4 linked regions of the Homo sapiens genome follow. The protein of the gene in region 4 interacts with the protein of the main gene of each other region in a pairwise test. Each region holds a gene or a part of one and is shown on either strand. Other genes may lie near its edges. The genes, in order: ARMC5, GALNT10, MTFR1L and CNOT2.

Region 1 (2,754 bases), on a different chromosome or scaffold from region 4:
TGGGTTCACTAGAAACCCAATCCTCCCCAGTACACAATACACCCGTGTAACAAACATGCACGTGCCCCCTGAATCTAAAGCAAAATAATAGTCAAAAAAAAAAAAAAAAAAAAAGATCTGGAAGCCAGATGATGGAGACCCTGCCTTGGAGACCAAAGCAATGTGAGCCCTTCCCTCCCCTCAACGCCAGCACAGGTCTTTGTCTGTCTCTGGGCATGACTAAGACAGGGCTCAGAGATTCCCTCCACAGCAGGTCTTCCCTCAGACAGACAGCAGTAGGACACGTGGCCCAGGAGATGAAAAGGGAGCCAAAGAATGGGGGCCCAAGATGGGCAACAGTCAGTAATGCAAAGGCCTTCAACACATCATCAGACTAACAGCATTCCCTCAGCACAACCCTTTCAGCCCCAAGCAAGATCTGTGTGTCCAGTTGGGTTGCTATGTCAGAGGAGTGAGGCCCTGACAGCAGGAAGCAGGCTTCCCCTGAGGCCCAAAACCACATCCTAAGCAGCAGCCTGGGAACTCAACCTTGTCCCAGTACTTATTAAACTGTCACATGCAAGGGTGGTCTGTGTCCAGACACAAAGACCTGAACAAGACCCTGCTTGGTGGGCGAAGAAACAGAAGCAGACACACCACACAACACAGGTATCCAACTCCAAATTGTTTAATCTCAATTCCAGAGGTCTAGGCCAGGCCAGGCACCTGGGGCTCTGGGCTGTTCTGCTTCTCTGGGCCCTACACCCAGAACCTGGCCTTGGCTTCTCGCTCCCGGGTCTTTAGATCGTCATCTTGGAGTCCGGTTCCATGTTCTCACCGCTCCTCCATGATGACTCCTTCTGCTCAGCCTCCTCCCTTGCCAGTCTCAGGGAGGATCCTTCACAGCCAATTCATCCTTGGGTCCCCTTCCCAGGGGACGTCAACAGTCTAGGCAGGGACCCTTGCCCCCAACTCAATCCCCATCACCACAGCCAGCAAAGCCTCCGTCAGGGGCCCTGCCTCTTCACCTGCTGCCTCCACAAGCCCCACCAGGGCCAGACCCCGCTTCCTCGGGCACTGCTCTGACCCCAGTGTCCAGCGGGCACAGTGGGCAGCCAGCCGGGGCCGGCCCAGGCGGAACACCTCACCCACTGACTCCGGGCCACCCTGGGGTCCCAGGTGGATGCGGCCCACGGCCTCTTCCAGCTCCTCCTCCAGCCCAGGCAGTAGGAAACGGCCAGCAGCCTCCAGTGCCTCCTCGGCCTCTGAACCCAGCAGGGGCTGGCCTGGTGGGGGCACGGGCCCCAGGGCAGCCCCACACCCCCGACAACCATGCAAATGATGCAGGACAGGCCAGGCTGCACCAGGCGACAGACCTCGCAGGGGCACCAGGTCCATCTGGGCTTCTGCAAAGCTGCCTGACAGCAGGGCCCGGAAGAAAGGGGAGGCGGTGGCTGAGGCCGCTCGCTGGGCAGGGAGCTGGAGGCCTGAGTCCAGCAGGAAGTGCAGGTCGGGAGCTGGGACAGGGGCTGGGCCCAGCAGAGGTTCATAGAGGCAAGGGGAAGGTGAGTCTAGGTCCATGGGGACTGCCTGTGGGACAGCTGGGCTCACAGTGGGAGACACCAGGTCTTGGAGGCAGGAAAGGGAGTCCGCGGCAAAGAAGAGGAAGAGCGGGTGTGGGGCCGGCCGGGTCAGCGCCGCAAGGAGGAGCCGGAGACCACCCTGCTCCAGAAGCAGCCGGCGCCACAGAGAGGGCTTCCTACAGGGAAGAGAGGGCCTTTCAAAAGGTGGGCAACGGGCCTGGGAAACACAGCACTCCTCCCCCAACCCCGCAAGGCACCCACTTCCCACTCACCGGCAGATGAAGGGCAGGGTCAGCGCGCAGGCCACTCGGTCCTCAGGGCTCCCAGAGAGCAGCAGGTGCGTCAGGGCCCCAACCCCAAAGGGCGACTCAGCCTGAACCGTCAGGTTCTGCAGTAGCCTCTCCCCTGTGAGTGGAAAGCTTGTCAGGCTGGGAACTGGGGTCTAAGACAGGTGGGGTGAGTGAGACAGGGCTCTGGGCCCGTGAGATGAAGGAGGGTGAAACCTCTGGGTGAGAAATCAGGGCACTGAAGAGACAGTGCTGGGCTCGGGACGCTGGGAACCTGAGGTCCAGGACAAGGACAGAAGGTGGGACAGTCAGGGTGTAAGTCTGGGCCCCTGAAGTGTGGGCGGCAAGCCACCCAGGCGCCGAGGCAAGAGACGGAGGACACGAGCTGTTCCAGTATAATACAATATAAAACAAGAATAGTTATACCAGATATAGATCTTAGAGATATATGAATATCATTAATCATTAGTTTGTAGTAATTACTCTTTATCCCAATATTGTAATAATCCTCGCTCTATAATCATAACCTGGGAAAAACCAGGCCATACAGAGATAGGAGCTGAGGGGACATAGTGAGGTGTGACCAGAAGACAAGAGTGCGAGCCTTCTGTTATGCCCGGACAGGGCCAGCAGAAGGGCTCCTTGGTCTAGCAGTAACGCCATGAAGCAGCCTGTGGTCAGGGCACAGCAGACAGGGCAGTCCCTGGCAGTGCTGGGGGTGATGGTGAGGCTGGGGTTCACAGGTCAGCGTGCTGGTGGGGAGCAGTCAGGACAGTGCTGAACCAATGGCAGAGCCAGGAAAGAAGCACAGACCAGCCCAGATCCTGGGCGCGGGGCTGCATCTAGAGTTAGGGTATCTGGGTCCCAGGGCTAGGGCAGAGGACACAGCAGAACTCTGCCTGTGG
Region 2 (4,338 bases), on a different chromosome or scaffold from region 4:
ACTCTAGAGCCGAGGTGATGGAAGCCTTGAAGGTTTTGCTGCAGAAATCAAGAACTGAGCTGTGATGTCAGAAAACTGAATCCCCATCGCTCAGCCTGGAGCTGGAAGAACTTGGAGGCAAGAGTTGCCAGAACGCTGGTCAAGGACTAGTGGCAGCTAGGCACGAAGGTCAGCGGCTGAGCTAGAGAAGCAGAGAATCAAGAGGACGAATGTGGGGGTGGCAGAGAGTAAGGTAGCCAAGGGGGTGCTCCGTTCCACCGCATCAGGGAGGAGGCAGCTAAGTGACCAGCGTCGAGCGCCCCGAGGAGGAGCCGCTGGCTGGCATCACCGTCGGAGTCCGGCTCCACGGCCCTCCGCATCGCCCAGAAGCCCGACTCCTCTGTCAAAGCCCTCGCCACAGTTACAGACACATTGCCTGGTCTAGTGAAATTACGTGTTTCATGTTTCAGCTCCCAGACGTCAGGGCTCAGGTCTGTTTTCATTTCATCCCAGAGCCTGGCACAGTGTTTGGCACATAGTGGCGCTCGCCAACGGTTTGCTGAGAGCTTTCCGGGAAGGGCTCAGTGCGCTTAGGATCCAAAAGCACGCGTGAGAATGCAGGGCATTCTAACTCCAAGGGGGTTGGACTTGCGTGAGGAAAGGTGCTGCAGAGAGGCTACCGTCACTTACCCACCCGCCGGTTTGCAGGATCTACAGACGGGCGGCGGCCGGGCACAGCTCCCTACAGTTTGCAGAGGGCGTTCACACCTAACGCCAGGGCCCCCCTAGAGGAAGAAAACCAGGGCCCGCCCGCGGAACAGTGAGCGTGCAGCACGGCTGTGGCCCCGTTTCATGGCCGGGAACACCGAGTCGCCGGGGTCAAAGTAGGTCCGCAGGTCCTGGGGGCCGAGCCTAGGTGGGCTGGAAGTGACAGCCCCGGGGGCTCCAGGCTCAGAACGCCCGGCGGGGCCCCAGCACTATTTGCATATCCCCAGGGAGGCAGCAAAGGTTCGGCTGCAGTCCCGGGCGGAGGTTGCCGGGCGGGGCGGCAGGGTACCCGGGCGAGCGGACATGCACCCCACCCAGCGGTGCCCAGCCCGCACCAGTTAGCGCCCAACTCGCCAACTCCGGGACTTTCGCAAAGCTCCAGAGGGCGGGGGAGCCGCCGAGGAGTGGGACGGACCATCGCGGCTCGAGAGGGGGGAAGCGCTCCGGCCCGGCATCCTGCAGCGCCCGGGCGGGCCGAGACGCTCCGTGAGAGGGCCGAGCCTGCAGCGCAGAGACTCGGCGGTCGACGCGGGGGCAGGCGGCGCGGGGCGGGCGGCTCGGCGGGGCCCGGGGGCGGTGGCGGCGGCGACGACCCCCTCGTGGCGGCGGCGTGGTGGCGGCGCCCAGCTCCCCGGCCGGCGAGCGGCGGAAGTGCCGCGGAGTTGGAGCGGGGCCGGCGCCGCAGCCGCTTCTGCTGGCTGAGCTGCTGCCGCCGCCGGGCGGACGGGCGGACGCGCGGAGCTGGGGGCGGCGCGGCGGGGCCGGCGGGGCGCGGCGGGGCTGACCGGCCCCGATGAGGCGGAAGGAGAAGCGGCTCCTGCAGGCGGTGGCGCTGGTGCTGGCGGCCCTGGTCCTCCTGCCCAACGTGGGGCTTTGGGCGCTGTACCGCGAGCGGCAGCCCGACGGCACCCCTGGGGGATCGGGGGCGGCGGTGGCGCCGGCGGCGGGACAGGTGAGTCCCCCCGTTGCTACAGGCCGGGAACACCCCCTTCCCGAATTCACTTTTAGCCTGTGGTTCCTTCCTCCACCTTCTGCTGTCTGCCTCCTCAGAGTCAGCTCCGAGACTCTTCAGCTCTTCCCATTTTCCGGATGGGAAAATTAAGTCCTGTCGGGACTTGTCCAGGGTCCCACGCCAGTCAGAGACTGAGTCCGAACTAGCACTCAGGACGCTATTTCTCACCACATGTTACCACCTTCCTTTCTGTCCCCGTCTGGTATTCCTTGACGTCTTCCAGCGGATCTCTTTTGAAGGATCCTATCTGCATCCCTGTATCCCAGGATGACTCCTGCCTTGTGCCAATAGGAATGAAGATTCTGGTTCTTCTATTTGGTGTCCAGGTCCTCTCTGCTTCCCTCCTCCCACCCCCCCCCCCCCACAACCCCTACCTGCTGATCCCAGTGTTCTTTGCTCAGGTCAGCCCTTTTCCTGATTTCTCATCTGCCCAACGAGACACCCGGGCCTTCCTCCTCTCCCCATTTATTCAACACCCCCGCCCCAACTCTAGCCTTTTCCTTTCTCAGATCCTGTGGATTCCTTGCAGAATGTAAAGATCATGCTCCCTTTAAAGCTTCAAGCCCCTGGGGGTGGAGAAGGGGGTAAGCTCCTGGTCCTTGAGGGACCTGCTGCCTTTGACCTTATGGGAGTCCAGAGGTGGGGCTCTGGTGGGGGGACCCCCAAAATGTCCCAGAGGCTATTGGTGCCCAGTGTCCTGAGGATGGAACACCAGAAGCCTTCCCTATCTCTTCTGAACTTGTCTAGTCTGGTTAGTTGTAGTGTTTATTGCAGCCAAAACTGGGATCGGAATGGTTTCTGCCTCCTTTGAACTTACCCACGTATGTTTGTGTGTATGTGTGCGTGCACGCATTTAGACTAGCAGCTCCCTCATAGCAGAAGCTCTGTCACATCACTCCCACCCTCCCAGGAGGTGCTAGTGAGTGTATTGCTTAGACTGTTTCATATAGTGGAACATTTCAGGCTTTCTTACGGGATTTCTCTGGTCCCATGAGAAGTGGATAATTTGTGTATCAGGGTCAGACTTGACTGACTGTTGGCTGGCCTCGACGAAAGAGGCTGGCTTTTCTGAGATTGATGGTTTTCCTTATTCTTCCCAGTATCAGGCTGCTGTCTAGGCAGTCTGGCATCTGGAGCACAGAGGGCTCTTTGCTACAGAGCTGACCAATTTGAGCTCCGCCTGTAACTCTGTTAATTGCTGCAAAGCATCCCAGAGGGTCTCATTGATCTTTCTGGTAGAGCTTACTGTTTAGAAACTAAGGTTTCCATCTCTTTCCTAAACCCCTGGTTCAAACCCTGACAGCTAGCTTAGACCTCTCTCCCTGAAATTCTGTATCTGTATGGATTTTCCGTTCATGAAATCTCTTTCCTCTGTTCCTATTCAGTACCAGCATCAGAGTCAGGAGTTCCAGGGTTCTGACCTCAGCTCTACCACTAACTTACTGTGTGTGTCCTTGATCACCTTTCATCTCCTTTTCTGAGCCTTACTTTCTTGGTCTGTAAACCATGATTATTGGTCCAGTTCTAACATTCTGTGATACTATCAGTTAATCAATGAGGAATACAACGGTCCCTTCTTTTTTTCTGTCTTGAGTCCAGAGTTCCTTGTAGCATCCCTAGCTGTGGAGGCTCCATACTGGACACAGCTCCAGGTCAAGGGGGAGTGTCCTACCCTAGTGCAAACTCTCCTTTAGAATAGCTGTAGCCCATTCTAAAATAGTGCTTGACATTCTGCCTCTGCTTGGAGAAAGACCTCGTATTTCATTTGCAATAGATGCCAAAGACATCCTGATTTTCATTTCTGTAGACCCAGATGGGTAGAGAAGGTCAAGGTTAACTGCCAGTTTGGCCTGAGCTTTCAAAGTAAATTACTCACTTGTGCAAGAGGGTATTGATAGAGTAAGGCAGACTTTTGGGCAGGGAGAGAGAGGGGAGCAACAGCTGGGTGCTGCTCAGAGCCCCTAACTGAAATGGATAGACAGGCTCATCTGGGAAGATCTAGTTTTTGTTCATTTCTTTTTCTCTGGAATAGCATGAAGAGGAGGAGGAAGAAGTGGTGAAGGGGGTTTGGGGGTTTGGGGGGAATACCAACTGATTATTCTTGCTTTAAAGAAAATCTCTTTGCTTCATGGGAGCAGCAGAATGGAGCTGTTTCCCCAATGATAAGCTCTTCTAGGTGCTACAGGATTCAGCATTCATCTGCTGCCTTTCAAGAACGCCCTGCCAAATTTCCACACAGCCCCTTTTTGTTTCACTCTCCCACAGATGCAGAGCACTGGGCTTGGCCCCCAGTCCGTTGTTTGAATGTCAGCTGGCCTTGAGGAAAGAGGCTGACTTCTCAGAGTGATGGTGTTCCATCCCTCATCCCAGTGTACTGGAACATACATGTAACATGCCAGGCTGCTATCTGGGAAATCTGGCATCTTGAGCATACAGAGCTTTTTCAACAGGGCTGACCAGTTCTGAGCTCAGCCTGTCATTCTTGTAATTGTTGAGAATCATCTTTGAGCATCTCGTTGATCCTTCTGGTAGAAATAACTGCAGAGGCTCTGGAGGGAAGTCTGACAGGACTTTATCCA
Region 3 (3,671 bases), on a different chromosome or scaffold from region 4:
TAGCCTCATATTTGGTTGGGGTGACCAAACCCAATAAATGTAGTGTTGCTCTTTCCTCAAACTGGGGCCCCAGGCACTGGCAAGCAGGTAGTCAGCAAGCTTTATGAATGACATAACATATGGTACTACTAAGAACTTACTATGTAAGTATGTTGCATTACATAATTGGCCATGGGCAACTCTGAGTAAATAGATACCAGAGCTCCTCATCAGATACTTACAGATCTTGACTCTGTTTCATTCGGTGAAAGTCCTTCAGGATACCCATCATGTCTGCAAAGCTGCTGGCCTTGGACAAAGAGACGCAGTCATCCTCTTCAGACGAACTGCAGGCAGCTTTGTGTTCTGGTTTGCAACATTCAGGGCTGGCAGAACAAAGCAGGGGGACTGATGGAAGCTCAGGGACCTCCACCTCTGTCTCCTCGGTGATGTCACTAATGACAAAGGAAGTTGTAGAGTGGAATGAGGATCCAAAACAAGGTAAGGGAGAAGAGACATTTGAACTTCCTGGAGATAAGAAATCTGGCGTTAATGAAGCCGAAGCTGAAAGAGAAAACAATAGGCATGGGTGGACATTGGGGCTAGAACACAGTAGCAATATCTTCTCCCCACAGCCCTGCCTACTGAACATTCATTTCCTGGGCTGACACCATGACAATCTGGGAGAGCCAGGATGGTATCTGTAGCCAGTGGAGGGTCATTCCACTATGCTTCTCACTCGGGGGCTCAGAAAGCTGTAGAAGCACTGGGCTTTTCCAGTGTTCCAGGAAGGCAGGAAAACCCAGCCCCATAATGGCCTTGGCATTTAAAAGCTCCCATTCCACAATAGGCTGTGGAGTGACAGCCCTGTCATAGGCCAAAGCAGCAGAGATAAGAGCTAAGGCCTGAATTTGTCCTTTTCTCTAACTAGACTAGTGCTTTTGACTATGCTCCTTTGAAATCTTGCTATCTGTGAACTAGAAGACATGTTCTGAGCAAAACCAGAATGGTAACAGACCTCCCAACCTCCCCAAATTTCAGTGGAGAGAATTTCCTCAGTTTTTACATTTCTAAAAATACTTTAAAAACACTAAATACACTAAAAACTATGTTTCTAAAAAAGATGTTACTTCTGCTTGTCTCTTGGATGACAAAAAAGTAGCCAAGAAATAACAAAGTTTCAGTACAATTCTTCATAAAACTTCCATGTGAAGAAATTAAATACATGAAGATTTCAAAGAACACCATGATTTTCATGTGTCCTACCAAATGATAAATTTCAGAGCTATGACTCTGAGTCAATGCAGAGTGAAAAAATGAGGATGGGAGGAATATGAAGATAAGCCCTGAGCATCTTGGGAGCGATCCACCTGTTGGCTGTCCATGCCTCTGGTTAAGGCAGGCTTCCCATCCATTTCCAGTGGTTCTGCCTTAACTGTAGACAGAAAGCTGGAGGGGTGGGTTACAGGGCTTGTTTGCATAATAGACCACTGTTTTTTTTTTTTCTTTTTTTGAGACGGAGTCTCACTCTGTCGCCCATGCTGGAGTGCAGTGGTGCAACTTCAGCTCATTGCAACCTCCACCTCTGCCTCCACCTCCACCTTCCAGGTTCAAGGCACATGCTGCGATGCCCAGCTAATTTTTGTATTTTTTATAGAGACAGGGTTTCACCATGTTGGCCAGGCTGGTCTCGAACTCCTGACCTCAGGTGATCCACCCACCTCAGCCTTCCAAAGTGTTGGGATTACAGGCGTAAGCCACAGTGCCCGACCACTGTATTTTAAGGCCAAGATCTCCAACTTTATGAAATTCTCCTTCCACCAAAAAAGTCCACCAATTTGAGATAAGAAAACATAACATAATGTCATGAAACTCCCCACTTTGAAGGGTGGGGCATGGGGACAATGTCACTAGCAGTATAAGAACTGAAGTGGTAAAGCCACTTGTGATTCCTGGTAGAAACAACAAGGCAAGGGAAGATAGGTGCTTAAAAAGGGTAAGTCTCAGTGGTGGTGGGGGGAATGTTTACTTCTTGTATTGAAAAGGAAAGCAGGGCGCGGTGGCTCATGGTTGTAATCCTAGCATTTTGGGAGGCTGAGGCAAGTGGATTGCTTGAGCTCAGGAGTTTGAGACCAGCCTGGGCAATGGCGAAACCCTATCTCTACTAAAAATACAAAAAATTAGCTGGGCATGGTGGCATGCGCCTATAATCCCAGCTACTCGGGAGGCAGAGGCACGAGAACTGCTTGAACCCAGGAGGTGGAGGTTGCAGTGAGCCAAGATCGTGCCACCGCACTCCAACCTGGGTGACAGAATGAGACTCTTGTTTCAACCGCGGGCACAGTGGCTCATGCCTATAATCTTAGCACTTTGGAAGGCCGAGCTGGGTGGATTGCTTGAGGCCAGGAGTTTGAGACCAGCCTGATTAATGTGGCAAAACCCCGTCTCTACTAAAAATAAAAAAATTAGCCAGGTGTGGTGGTGCACACCCGTAATTCCAGCTACTCAGGAGGCTGAGGCACGAGAATCGCTTGAGCCTGGGAGGCAGAGGTTGCAGTGAGCCAAGATTGCGCCACTGCACTCCAGCCTGGGCAACAGAGCAAGAACCAGGACCCTGTCTCCAAAAAAAGGAAAACTGGCTGGGCTCGGTGGCTCACACCTATAATCCCAGCACTTTGAGAGGCTGAGGTGGGTGGGTCATCTGAGGTCAGGAATACAAGACCAGCCTGGCCAACATGGTGGAACTCTGTCTCTACTAAAAATATAAAAATTAGCCAGGCCTGGTGGCACACCCCTGTAGTCCCAGCTACTCAGGAGGCTGAGGCAGGAGAATCGCTTGCACCTGGGAGGCAGAGTGCAGTGAACTAAGATCGTGCCACTGCACTTCCAGCCTGGGCGACAGAGCAAGACTCACTCAGAGGAGAAAAAAAAAAAGCTACTGTGGGCTTATGTAAGATGTGATCTTAAAGACACTTAGAAGAGGGTATCAGTTTGGGGGCTAAGGGAGGGACTCTGCCTGGGGTCACAGGTTAATATTTTGTTCTTAACCAAACCATTCAGCCCAAAATGGCTGGTAGAAACCATCTAAGAGGCACTACTGGCTAGCCAGGCTTCAGGACAACCCCAGGGCCCGGAACCTAAGTACCTGCAAACCAAGGATTACCACTTTCTTTACCCCTATCCTGCCCAAGAGCCAGGGGAAAGGAACAGCCTGTTACGTTCTGGCCCTGGCACAGGGGCTCCTACCTGCATCAGCTGCCACTATCTTTGCAATCTGGCTGCGCAAGTGGCTCAGCTCGTCCTGCAGCTCAGTAGTGCGGCTTAGGGCTGGCAGAGCTGGCTTCTTCAGGGCCAGAAGCCTCTCCTCGGACCCACGCAGGTTGGGAACAGAGGCATTGCGCTGCATGACAATCAGAGGGCTGGGTTTCCAGGTGTGCCTCAGGGGGCGCGTATCACTCCTGGACCAGGGAAAACCAAGTAGATCAGTTAGAGACAGCAGGCCACTGTGCTCCTAAGGTTCCTTCCCCCACTTCTGTGAGAGTAGTATAGTAAGGTTCTGCTCCTCTCTGAGCCCACAGTTCTCATTCCTCTCTCCTTGCTGCCTGCCACCTCTTCTGGGAAGTTCTCCATTCCTTAGCAGACCAGCTACTGCCTCAACTACCTGACCCGGGCATATGTCTCCTCTTCATCCG
Region 4 (3,671 bases):
TGCTGTATCATAAAAATTTATCATTTCAGGAATATTTTAGAAATTGGAAGTTATCTGACCAGCAAAAAAACAAATTTGGAGAAGAAAACAAGAATGGTAAGGCTATTTGGCCAATTAGGGATTGGCATCCTTGAACTGATTTTAGTGCTAAAACTGGACAGAGACCGTATGGAATAAAGTAACTTACTTTCAGTGTTTAATTTTAGCTTTCTAAAATTAATCTTCACAAAAACAGCTAATAAATTCAAAAAGTCTAAGTTTAATTTTGTTGAAGTAGTATAAAAAGATCAAAAAAGAATATATCACTTCAAATTGGATCATCAACCCCTGAATACTTAATAATTGTTACTTTAAATTTATTTTAAAAACTGAATTTCTTTAAAACATAAAGAATGGCACTGGAAAGGTATATATAAAGATTTGTTTTTTGGAAACTAAATATACTAAGTCATTAACTTTGAGTTGCTTGAGTCAAACTAACACAACTGAATAGGGTCAAGGGGAAAAAAATCTAATCTCTCACTAGTATAATTAGAAACAATCACAGAAAAATCATCTCTAAAATATTATGCCAAGAATAGGACATACAGCTGAAAAAAAGAAAAAAAAAGAAAAATGGGAAGAACTCAAGGAGTTTTTCTTGGCATAAAAAAACTAAAACAGGCAAAAATATAAATATGTATAAATGAGCTTGTATATGAGCAGGTGACTGGAAGGACAGTAAAATTAAAATTTATTGGGCACTTATCAACAAAGCACTATACTACTTCCTCTCAATTCCTTCTTATAATCATCTTATAAAAAAGGTTATCACCTTTTTACAAAGAATAAAAACAAATTTTAAAAAAAGTTTAAAAGGTTATAATTTTGAGTCAAATTTTTCTTTCAATCTAACAATTGATAATAACAACACAATATTAGGAGGACTATACGAACACATTCTAAATAGATTCCTACCTCTTATCTGGCAGGGTGTTAGTCAAATTCCTTATTGATCATTTTTCAGAAACCCTTAAAGAATATGATCTAAGAAATTATTCCATTAATTATTTCCACTGCACAAACTGATTAACAGCACATCACTTAAACACTTATGGCAAAATACGTCATTCTTTATTCAATTTTTTGCTAGAAATAAAAAATATTAAGTTACATGAAAAAATAAAATCATAGCAACCAAATCCCTGAATATTCATACTTAAATAAAGTCCCCTAAAATCTTTATAGGGGCAGGAGAGAGTAGTCCTTAACTGATGCCTTAAAGTGTCCCCTTTTCCATTTGCAAAGCAGCCAGCTTCCTCTAGGAACTCACTGGCATGCCCATACTAAAAAGGACAACATAAATGGTGCTTTATCTCAATGGCTTCTTACCTTCAACCTGTCTTGCACTTAGCTGGTTAATGATTCCTGTAAAATTATTTCCTTATGCAATTTTCTTCATTAAATTCAAAGTATTTTAGAATAGAAAAGACTCCAGAGATTATCCAAGTAGGTTACAGATAAAGAATTCACACTAGGCATTAAGTGACTTGCTCAAGATCACAAGTAATGAGGCATTAAAGACAATGATCCAATTTCTTGACTCCTATTTCAATGCCTTTTTTGCAACCAATATCATTTTCCATTTTTTAATGGTAGTTAATAATGTTTGCATCATCCAGGGAACTTTAATGTCTAGGTCTCCTCTCCAGCAATTGTGATTTTGGGCAATCATGGCAGTGGAATTTTAAAAATTCCCCAGGTGTTTCCATGGGTGCAGTCAGGGTTGAGAACCACTGTTCTAGAGTATTAAAATTCTGTCAAGACCCAAAGATGTTTTCTAACCTTAACAAGCATTTTACTCTGTTTACACACTACATATCTGATTTATAATCTTCTTTCTTCTTTCTCTATTCCTTTCCTCAAATCTGTCCTTTACTACTCATATCTAACTCCTCAGCAAGAATACTTTCCCTTCTCTTGTTCTAGAGATATAAAAGACTACTTAAAAATAAATAAGTGCTATGACCAAGGTGTTTACATGCAGTAGACATAGCGTGCTTGACTGCTTGTAGGAGGGACCACACTAACTCAGACTTGGGAATAGAGTGAGTCTGGAAGCAGAAAAATTTTCCTGGAGGAGACAGAAGATAGTATATGAATTAAATAACATATGAGACTCAGCCAGGTGTTTGGTGGTGGCAGTGGTGGGGAGTCAGGTGGGTATAAATGTTACAATAGTTCAGTCTGAGAGAATGACGAGATATATGAAAATGAGGACAAGTTATACACCTGGCGGAGGAACAGGCTTTGCCTTCTAGGTGCTAAGAATGTATAAGACAAGAAACATGGATGGAGCTAAGTGGCTTCCACAACTATGAGAAGTGGCTGCTGTGCTCGAATCAGCTGAGAGTCTCAACATCTGGCTGGATCTTTAGAGGAGTGCCACAGAATCTTTACCTGTGGAATAGCTGTGTGGATCTCCCAAGTACACTCTACACTTCCTCAACCTAAATTTCTGCTCTAGATTAGTGGCACTCATTCACAAAGGTTTGCAGGTCGGAAACCTTAGAAATCATTCTTGATCCCTTTCTTTCACTCCTACATCATCAAGTCCTGTTAGCTCTATCTACAAAATGTACCAAATCTGATCACTTCTCAACACCTCCACTAGTCCAAGTCATCCCATTTTTTTTTGCCTGGACTACTGCAGTATTACTAACATTCTCTCTCTCTCTCTCCATAAAAACAGGACATTTGTTATTTGCTATATTCTTATCTATATCTTGAAATAATACCTCATTCATTGTAGGCACCCAATAAATACATAATTATTAGAATGAATACATTCTATCACAATGTCTTAATTCAACAGATTCTTGGCACCTGTGGATTTAACACTGGTAGTTTCTACTATGTACAAATGGCTTTCTAGGGTCATGGCATTCAGGTATCAAAGAAACTGATGTTTTCAGCTCATGTTCACATAGTTACTCTTACAAAGTAATATAATCCTGGTTCTACTACTTACAATCTGTGTAACCTTGAACAAATTCCTTAAACTCTTGTGGAGCTGCTGTGAAGGTTAAATGAGTTAATTCACATAAATACTTAAAATCGCATCTGATACACAGTAGATAATATTCAATAAATATTAGCTCTGTGTGTGTGTGTGTGCGTGTGTCATACTTATGAAAAGAAAGCCAACAGGTGGTACCAAAAGTGAAGATAAAATAAGATAGTCTAATCAAGTGATGGTTTTCACACACACAAAAAGGATGTTTTATGGTGGAAAATGTTATTCTATAGCTGTGTTCTTGAACTTTAAAAGTAGCAATGATCTTGAAATAAATCTCTCAGAAATGTGAAGACTGTACTTCTTGCTGAAATCAATATAACAGCCTAACAGGTGTCTCCTGTCTTGATAAAGTAGGCCATTCCTAAATCTATCCCATGCTGTGGATGTTATTCCCACTGCTAAAACAACTTTACTCACAGTCTGTTCAATGCTAATCTCAAATATAATCTCATCAGTAAATTCTTTTCCTAATCATTTTCCAAGATACCTGATTACTCCTGTCTTTGAAATATCCAAATAGTCTACAGCCGTACCATCCTGAATGTGCCCTATCTCATCTGAAACATCCAAATAACCTCGAACTTCTTATTCTACTACATAGTAAAATCATTTG

The links.
Region 1: the proteins of CNOT2 (region 4) and ARMC5 interact in binary tests that used the Homo sapiens proteins (3 or more experiments, as listed by UniProt).
Region 2: the proteins of CNOT2 (region 4) and GALNT10 interact in a two-hybrid assay, tested with the Homo sapiens proteins (one large-scale study listed by BioGRID).
Region 3: the proteins of CNOT2 (region 4) and MTFR1L interact in binary tests that used the Homo sapiens proteins (3 or more experiments, as listed by UniProt).

Annotation. Positions count from the first base shown.
Region 1 is NC_000016.10:31,465,063-31,467,816, reverse strand, and holds the end of ARMC5 (armadillo repeat-containing protein 5), read right to left. Parts: coding exon of another isoform or gene 2,616-2,754; exon of another isoform or gene 1,968-2,615; coding exon 1,835-1,967; exon of another isoform or gene 1,757-1,834; coding exon of another isoform or gene 1,739-1,756; coding exon 928-1,738; 3' UTR 652-927; downstream 1-651.
Region 2 is NC_000005.10:154,189,327-154,193,664, forward strand, and holds the start of GALNT10 (polypeptide N-acetylgalactosaminyltransferase 10), read left to right. Parts: upstream 1-1,406; 5' UTR 1,407-1,540; coding exon 1,541-1,699; intron 1,700-4,338. UniProt on the Homo sapiens protein: Catalyzes the initial reaction in O-linked oligosaccharide biosynthesis, the transfer of an N-acetyl-D-galactosamine residue to a serine or threonine residue on the protein receptor. Has activity toward Muc5Ac and EA2 peptide substrates.
Region 3 is NC_000001.11:25,826,381-25,830,051, reverse strand, and holds part of MTFR1L (mitochondrial fission regulator 1-like), read right to left. Parts: coding exon 3,641-3,671; intron 3,438-3,640; coding exon 3,226-3,437; intron 544-3,225; coding exon 222-543; intron 1-221. UniProt on the Homo sapiens protein: Mitochondrial protein required for adaptation of miochondrial dynamics to metabolic changes. Regulates mitochondrial morphology at steady state and mediates AMPK-dependent stress-induced mitochondrial fragmentation via the control of OPA1 levels.
Region 4 is NC_000012.12:70,323,394-70,327,064, reverse strand, and holds part of CNOT2 (CCR4-NOT transcription complex subunit 2), read right to left. Parts: intron 1-3,671. UniProt on the Homo sapiens protein: Component of the CCR4-NOT complex which is one of the major cellular mRNA deadenylases and is linked to various cellular processes including bulk mRNA degradation, miRNA-mediated repression, translational repression during translational initiation and general transcription regulation.